Regions from separate parts of the Homo sapiens genome. Here region 2 is linked to region 1. The links come from fine-mapping of genetic effects on gene expression. A gene starts in region 1. The other region holds a variant in brackets. All regions are shown on one strand. Distances are between the middles of the regions. Region 1 holds the start of XPO6 (exportin 6). Region 2 overlaps XPO6 (exportin 6).

Region 1 (4,393 bases):
GTGTAATATATATGTTAAAATACATAGACTCAGCTGTGCACGGTGGCTCACGCCTGTAATCCCAGCACTTTGGGAGGCTGAGGAGGACGGATCACTTGAGCTCAGGTTCAAGACCAGCCTGGGGAACGTGGTGAGACCTCATCTCCACAAAAAATTAGCCAGGCATGGTGGCACTTGCCTGCAGCCCCAGCTACTTGGGAGGCTAAGGTGGGAGGACTGCTTGAGCCCAGGAGGTCGAGGCTGCAGTGAGCCATGAACGTGCCACTGCACTCCAGCCTAGGAAACAAAGCAAGACCCTGTCTCAAAACAAATAAAAATAAAACACATACACTATACGTATAGCATATACTGTACGGTGCTGCTCAGCATTAATGGTGTACTTTACCCAGCTGGTTGTAAGCTCCATATCTCAGGACCTACACACTACCCACAGGCCCCTTGAATGTTTCGAAAATTCCACAGGCCTTAAGGTCTGTATCACAAAAGATGCAGCTATGTCCCTTTCTCTATTATACCACTAACTTGGCAGGGGTAAAATGGGTGAAACTGAGGAGAACAGCTCCACTCCTCGAGGTGCTCAACCACAGGCTAGGTGATCCAGTACTTACCAAGGGCTTACTATGTGCCAGGAGCTGGAGCAGATAAGGGTTCAAACAATTTGGTCTTTGAAGGAGCTGTGTATACCGCAATAGACAGATAAGGCTCAGAAATAATTACAAGAGCAAAAAGGCAAATGCTTAACAAAGAGATGTGGGTACACACATTTAGGGGAGTATTGAAAGTATCGGTCTAGAAAACGTGGAGATGTGGATACACAAAGAGATGTGAGTACACACATTTAGGGGAGTATTGAAAGTATCGGTCTAGAAAACGTGGAAGGTAGCTTCAGCAGAGATCAGAGCATGTAGAATAGCAGCCTCAGTGTCAAAAGATCACGACCATTCCTGACTTTGCCATCACCTGTGCAAGTGACCTCTGTAAATCGCTCTGTTTCCTCATATATAAACCTACAGCTAGATGAGATGTTTCTCCTACAATCACCCAGCTCTCTAAGTGTATTAGAGATGCCTAGGTTCAAAGTCAGATGCCTAGGTTCAAATCTTAACACTGTTAAAAAGTCGCTTGACCTTGAGCTGGGGAATTAATTGCTCCGTGCCTCAGTCTCCCCACTTCCGAACAGAGGGCTGGTGTGATCATTAAATACTACTGCACTGTCAATCACTTCGCGCAGGGCCTTGGCAAGTAGTAAGCCCTCAATAAACGATAGTTATTATCCGGAGGAGCTGCAGGAGGCAAACACCAGATGCAAGGGTTGTGCCTGCTGCGCTCCCAGGGCCCTCCCAGGCCTGAGCCATCATCCCTGGGGGGATGGGAGCGCAGGGCCGGGGCTGCACACTCTGCACGCATGTGTCACCGGCCAGGCTCCGCACGCGCCTCTCCCCGCCATGGGGAGAGCAGCGATGGCTCAGCAGCCCCGGGGCCCATTCCCACCCTTCCGGTAGGGCACCCCAGGAGGGAAGGGGGCTCCAATTCCACTTACCATGCTGGCCGGGGAGGGGGCGGCTCAGATGAGCTGGTTCTTGGGCTTCGGACACGTCCCGCTCGCACAGTTCAGGTCATGGTCCCGGCAGACTCGGGAAGTCCCCCACCCATGCAAAGACAACCCCTTCCCCACCGGGCCCCGAGGGGACCCTCTAAAAAGGGCAGGGCCGCCCGGGTCGCCTCATCGGGGGACCCCGAGACAATTCATCCAGACCCACCCGCCCCTCCCCAAGGAAACTGAAAAAGCAGGAAATGAGGCTCGGATGCCGGCGAGGAGGGCAGCTGCTCGGGACCCCCGCCCGGGCCCGACCCCCGCGGGGGAGGCTGCGGGCCCAGGCAGGGGCTCCCCGGCCTCCGCGGGCAGAGGTGGCGGCGGCCCCGGCCCCGAGGCTGAACGGGCGGAGGCTGACAGGCCTCGACCGCGCGGCCCAGGCGGCCGGCTCAGGGGAGAGGCCCGGGGGCCCGCGCTGTCCTCGCAGCCTCAACCCACACGGCCACTGCCGCCGCCCCCTAGAGCATCCTTGCGCGCGCCCGCCCTGGAGCCGCCCGCTAGTACCGCGCGGCCGCCCCCGACCAACAGCCCCAACGCGCCGGAAGTGGCGAGCGCCGGGCGGCCCCACAGCGCGGCCGCCGGGCTGCGGCGCTGGAACCGGACCAATCCGGAATCGAGCGGGGCGAGCGGGGGGAGCGGGCGGAGGGCGGAGGGCGGGGCTGCACCTGACGGCTCCCACTGGCCCCGCCTTCTTACCACGCCCTCTCTTGCCCCGCCCCCTGCGCCCACCGCCCGTGCGTCCACGCGGGCCGGCAGCCATCTTGGTAAAGGGAGCCCGGGCTGCCATTTTAGTAAAGGCGTGGTTTCCCTTTCGCTTTTTTCGCCCATTCATTCCGCTAAAATTTTAGTGAGTGCCTTTTACGGGCGGAGCATCGAGCTGGCAGCGTGACGACACGCGGCCCTATGGAGCTTACATTCATGCAGTCCACACACTCTTGCCCGACTATATTCCAGGCCCTGCTGTGGATGCTAGGACAGGGGAGATAAACGTAACTTCGATAGCCAAGGTGCTGAGAGAGGCAGAGAATGTGTTGGATTCCTGTTCCCATCCTCCAATCCACTTTACTCGTGAAAGTGCTCATCTTTATTTTGTTTTATTTTTGGGGACAGGTTCTTGCTCTGTTGCCCAGGCTGGAGTGCGGTAACACAATCATGGCTCACTGCAGCCTCAACCTCCTGGTGCGCCACCATGCCCAGCTAAATTTTTTTATTTTTTGCAGAGGTGAGGCCTCCTTTTGATGCTTGGGCTGGTCTGGAACTCCTGGGCTCAAGCAGCTTTCCTGCCTCAGCCTTCCAAAGTGCTGGGATTACAGGTATGAGTCATCCAGCCAGGCTGAAAGTGCTAATTTTAAGAAACAGTCAGGAAACTATCCCAAACAGCTGAGGTTGAGCCCGCGGGTGTGCCTACTACATAGATTGGAGCAAATCTATGTAACCCAATGGCCCTTGTCAACCTTAAATAACGAGATTGAGAAAATAGTATTTAAGTATAGGGTTTATTCAAGCCCGAAGCTTGAAGATGGCCCACCAGAAGTATAGTCCAATTAGTGGCAGTTACAAATGGGGTTTCCTTGTTTGTTTGTTTGTTTTTAAGACAGGGTCTTGCTCTGTCGCCCAGACTAGAGTGTAGTTTGTTGTTGTTGTTGTTTGAGACGGAGTCTCGCTTTGTCGCCCAGGCTGGAGTGCAATGGTGCAATCTCAGCTCACTGCAACTTCCGCCTCCCGGGTTCAAACGATTATCCTGCCTCAGCCTCTCGAGTAGCTGGGACTACAGGCACCCACCATGATGCCCGGCTATTTTTTTTATTTTTAGTAGAAACGGAGTTTCACCATAGTGGCCAGGCTGGTCTTGAACTCCCGACCTCAGGTGATCCGCCAGCCTCGGCCTCCCAAAGTGCTGGGATTACAGGCGTGAGCCCTCCCGCCTGGCTTCAAGTGGGTTTCTAAGGAAAAAAGAGGCATAACATAAGGTTGAATAGGAATGATGAGAAAGGGGGAAAAAATAACATAAGCTATTGCCTATACATTGTTCTTTGTATCACAAATTTCAGGAACCTGAAGGAAATGGGGGAGGCAGCTAGTCTGGAACAAAATATCTTTAAACAATTGTCCCCGAGCATGTGGAGGTGGGAGTGTGCCCGAACTCCCATACACAAGTCTCAGTGGACCTGACAAATTTTGCATACTTCACATAACTCAGACTTCCCTGAGCTATTTTTCTTTCCTGTCAAACCTCAGTGTGATCTGAATCAATTCACCCAGAAGGACTGTTAAAACAAAGATTACTCGCTCCACTCATAGACTTTCCCATCCAGTAGGTTTGAGATGGGGCTGAATAATTTGCATTTCTAACAAGCTCCCAAATGAAGCTGATGCTGCAGGTCTAGATACCACATTTGGAGAACCACTGATACAACACTTTACCACTGAAAGCAATAGCTTTCAGGGGTTTTTTAGTTTTTTGTTTGTTTGTTTGTTTGTTTGTTTTTGGAGAAAGGGTCTCACTCTGTTGCAGTGACATGATCATGGCTCACTGCAGCCTCAAACTCCCAGCCTCAAGCACTTTTTTTTTTTTTTTAATGAGACAGAGTTTCGGTCTTGTTGCCCAGGCTGGAGTGCAATGGCATGATCTCGGCTCACCGCAACGTCCGCCTCCTGGGTTCAAGCAATTCTCCTGCCTCAGCCTCCCAAGTAGCTGGGATTACAGGAGCCCACCACCGCACCCAACTAATTTTTTGTATTTTCAGTAGAGACGGGGTTTCACCATGTTGGTCAGGCTGGTCTCAAACTCCCGACCTC
Region 2 (4,393 bases), 71 kb before region 1:
TCCAATAGGACTGTTGCCCTTATGAGAAGATGAAGAGACACAAGGGTTCTCTCCCTCCCTTTCCTCACATGCACACAAGAAAGGCCACGTGAGCATTCAGAGAGAAGGCGCCATCTGCAAGCTACCAAGAGAGCTCACAGAAACAGAATCTGCCAGCATCTTGAAGTGGAACTTCTAGACTCCAAAACTAAGAGAAAATAAATTTCTGTTGTTTAAGGCCAGCCTGTGGTATTTTGTTATGGTAGCCCAATCTAACTAATAGAGAAGGTAAACAATATGAGAAAGAAACCTGGAACTTCAAGAAGGAAGGAAAAGCAAGAGAAATGGCAATGTCTGGGTAAATCTAATAGACTACTTCTTTCTTCTTAAGAGCTATAAAATATGAATGATGGGTACGTGTATAAATTAGAACACTGTCTGGTGGGGTTTTCCAAGTATGTATATGTAAAACCTCAATATAAAGAAGAGAGGCTAAAGGACTCTAATCTATATGGTGGTAAGGTTTCCATACCACCCTTGTGGTAAAATGTGACTCTGAAAAGTTAAGTATATATACTGTAATACCCAGAGCAACCACCAAAAAAACCCACATAAAGAAATGTGGTCCAACACTCAATAGACACACTGGAAAAGAAAACTAAATGTGTATGCAACTAACAGAGTCTCAAAATAAATGAAGCAAAAACTGATCAAACTAAAAGGAGACAGACAAATCCAAAATTATTTTTGGAGAATTCACCCCCCTCTCAGTAACTGATAGAATAAGTAGGATAAAGACAACATGTACAGGCTGGGCGCAGTGGCTCACGCCTGTAATCCCAGCACTTTGGGAGGCCAAGGCAGGCGGATCACCTGAGGTCAGGAGTTCCAGACCAGCCTGGCCAACGTGGCAAAACCCTGTCTCTACTAAAAATACAAAAATTAGCCAGGCGTGGTGGCGGGCACCTGTAATCCCAGCTACTTGGGAGGCTGAGGCAGGAGAATCGCTTGAACCTGGGAGGTGGAGGTTGCAGTGAGCCGAGATCACACCATTGCACTCCAGCCTGGGTGACAGAGCAAGACCCCATCTCAAAAAAAAAAAAAAAAAGACATGTACAAATTAAACTAGAAAACAATAACAAAAAGGTATATGGAAAATCCCCAAATATTCGGAAACTAAACAGGAAATCTCCAAAGAAATTAGAAAATATTTTAAATCAAATGAAAATTAAAATGTAACATTAAAATTTGAAGGATAGCCGGGCGTGGTGGCTCACGCCTGTAATCCCAGCACTTTGGGAGGCCAAGGCGGGCGGATCACAAGGTCATGAGATTGAGACCAACCTGACCAACATGGTGAAACCCTGTCTCTACTGAAAATACAAAAATTAGCTGAGTGTGGTGGTTTGTGCCTGTAATCCCAGCTACTCGGGAGGCTGGGGCAGGAGAATTGCTTGAACCCGGGAAGCAGAGGTTGCAGTGAGCCAAGATCACGCCACTGCACTCCAGCCTGGTGACAGAGTGAGACCCCGTCTCAAAAAAAAAAAAAAAAATTTTTTTTGAGGGATAAAGCTAAAGCAGGGCTTAGAAGGAAATTTACAGCATTAAATGCTTATATACACCACAGAGATAAGCCTATAAGCCTCAAGTTCTGAGAGTTAAATAAAATTATACATGTTAAGGCAACTACATAGTAGGTGCTCAATAAAATATATATGAATAAAGAACAAATGAACAAAGAAATGAATGAAAAACACACAGGTGATAAACAGACAAAATTCCAAGTCAGGTAAATACAAAGGATTGAAGCATATTCCTGGATAGCTTTTTCAACTCAATAAAGCAACTAAGACTCTATTCACTTGCCCTGTGGGGCAGTCAAGAGCAAGAACTAGAAAGCTGCTAGAGCTCTGATCTAAACCTAGTTCACACCTTTATTGCACCACAATGTCATGTGTAACAGTGGCACTTCCTCTTTATTAAGCAGGTTCACCCACTCCAAAAAGCAAGGAGCAGTTTTTCTCACCCTCACTCACATTTGTTTACAGTCCTATCTAATGTCACCAGAATCCCTACGTTGGTTTGTGGCCAGCACTTGCCAGAAGTCTAGTCACAAAGAGGCTCACAGAACATGACACAATGACTTTAGGTTGCTTCACACACTCAGGTTTCTTCACCTTCCTGTAAAAATAAGTTTCTACACAGGTGACTCCCTTCACATTGACAAGCACAAAGAGCC[G/A]GAAGTGAGAGAGAAAGGGGAGGTGAACCAATGCTTATTTGCTGAGCACCTACTGTCAGCCAAGGCACTTTACGCTCATTAGTTCATCCCACTTTCTCAACAATCTGTGAGGAAGGCACAACCATCCAAAAGCACAAACAAGGAAAGGGAAAGGAAAATCCGGGCCTTTCCATGCCACCACCTCAAAATACAGATCAGGATGATCTACCCCATCGGCCATTCCACTCTGCAGGAATGGCTACAGAACATTTACCCCATTAACACTGGGGCTCAGGCTCTCTCAAGTCCCCACAGTCTCTCATCAAGAAATTCCTCTCACACCTGTAATCCCAGCACTTTGGGAGGCCGAGGCGGGTGGATCATGAGGTCAGGAGATCGAGACCACCCTGGCTAACACGGTGAAACCCCGTCTCTAATAAAAATACAAAAAATTAGCCGGGCGTGGTGGCGGGCACCTGTAGTCCCAGCTACTCGGAAGGCTGAGGCAGGAGAATGGTGTAAACCCAGGAGGCGGAGCTTGCAGCGAGCCAAGATCGCGCCACTGCGCTCCTGACCAGGCAAGTGAGCATGCAGAGCTCCAATTTCCAAGCTCCTAGGACCAAAAATAAATCTATGTATATTTGTGCTTCTAAATTTGTAGCCTACAATGCTTACCACTTTGTTGTGATGAATGATGCAAAACCTTTAAACCACAGGGGACAGGAAATGAGTGCTGCCTTTGTGACTTAACCACACCTACATTTCCCATTTAAGACAGCAAGAAAACATTTTTGACTACTTCCTGCAAGATTAGTTGCTTCTGAAATATGATTCCAGAACATCCCAACTTCTCTCTGGTATATTTTATCAGTTGACAAACATTTGATCACATGTGCATGCTCTTAGTTAACATAAATGTGGTCATCACCAGAAGCCAGTGTTCTTCAGCAGCTGCTCCTGCAAAACAGCATATCTCTGATATATTAAGAGTCTCTCATAGTCTGGAGTGGTGAATGTTAAGGGTTACAGAAAAAATTATAAGCTGAAGTTGAAATATTTTCTTTGTGCAGCCCACTGGACTAACACATGTTCTTTGTAGTCTACTGTCTTAGACCACTAAGGGGTATCTGACAGGACATGCAGTTCCCCAGACGGTGGTTACTATTTAACAGCACTAACCAGAGGAGCTTGGAGGGGTTTTTGTTGTTGTTGTTGTTTTATTTTATTTTAGAGACAGAGTCTTGCTCTGTCGCCCAGGCTGGAGTGCAATGGCATGATCATAGCTCACTGTGGCCTCCAACTCCTGGGCTTAAGCAGTCCTCCTGCTTCAGCCTCCTGAGTAGCCGGGACTACAGGCATGCACCACCATGCCTGGATAATTTTTGTATTTTTTGTACAGACAGAGTCTTGCTATGTTGCCCAGGCTGGTCTCAAACTCCTGGGCTCAAGTGATCCTCCCACCTTGGTCCCCACAAGGAGCTGGAACTACACGTGCACACTACCATGTCTGGCTAATTTGTTTTTTAAGTTTTTGTAGAGACAGGGTCTCATTATGTAGGCCGGGCTGGTCTCAAACTCCTGCCCTCAAGTGATCCTCCTGCCTCAGTCTCCCAAAGTGCTGGGATTACAAGAATGAGCAATGGCACTTGGCCTGTTGTTTTATTTTTCAAAGGCATAAAGGCATTATATGAAAGTGTTATGTTTAAAAAAGAATAAATCATGAAAAATTAAAAAGCCTCATTTAGGATGATAATCACATGATCAATGAGAAAAATTCCCACTGTTTCAAGTGGTCAGCCAGAACAACTGACAACTGTGACATTAGACAACAGATGCCAGGGCAGGCAGGTAAACATCTGCAGGTGGGCTAAAGGCCTTTAGACTGTCCAGGGGCCATGCCACCTAACGCTACAGTCACAACCACAGTCTAAAGGCAGTAACATCTTCTATTATTCATCATTGCTGTTGTCATCACTGTGACCATTTACTGAGTGCCTAATACATCTAGATGCTGTGCCAGGTATTTTACATACATGATTTCCTTGAATCCTAACCATCCTGCAAGAGAAGTGTTAAGTACGTCCATTTTGCAAGAGGAAATGTGATCAGCATATAACTTGACCAAAAGTAACACGGCTAGCCTAAAGCAAAAAAAGAATTTAAATTCTCTATACCACTGCTCTATTAGTATAATGA

Evidence for each region. PIP is the estimated chance that this variant, and not a neighbour inherited with it, causes the effect.
Region 2: its variant is fine-mapped to the expression of XPO6 in whole blood (TOPMed, PIP 0.90).

Annotation. Positions count from the first base shown.
Region 1 is chr16:28,209,826-28,214,218 of GRCh38, forward strand. It overlaps XPO6 (exportin 6), which reads right to left and starts at 2,140. Exons shown (of 24, transcript NM_015171.4): 1 at 1,541-2,140. The coding sequence starts at 1,543. RefSeq lists an enhancer at 1,260-2,258 and a silencer at 1,888-2,377.
Region 2 is chr16:28,139,162-28,143,554 of GRCh38, forward strand. The region is part of intron 9 of XPO6 (exportin 6); the gene reads right to left. Among named protein-coding and RNA genes, the nearest start is that of XPO6, 71 kb to the right of the region's middle. RefSeq lists an enhancer at 2,465-2,514. The variant G/A (reference allele first, on the strand shown) is at 2,219.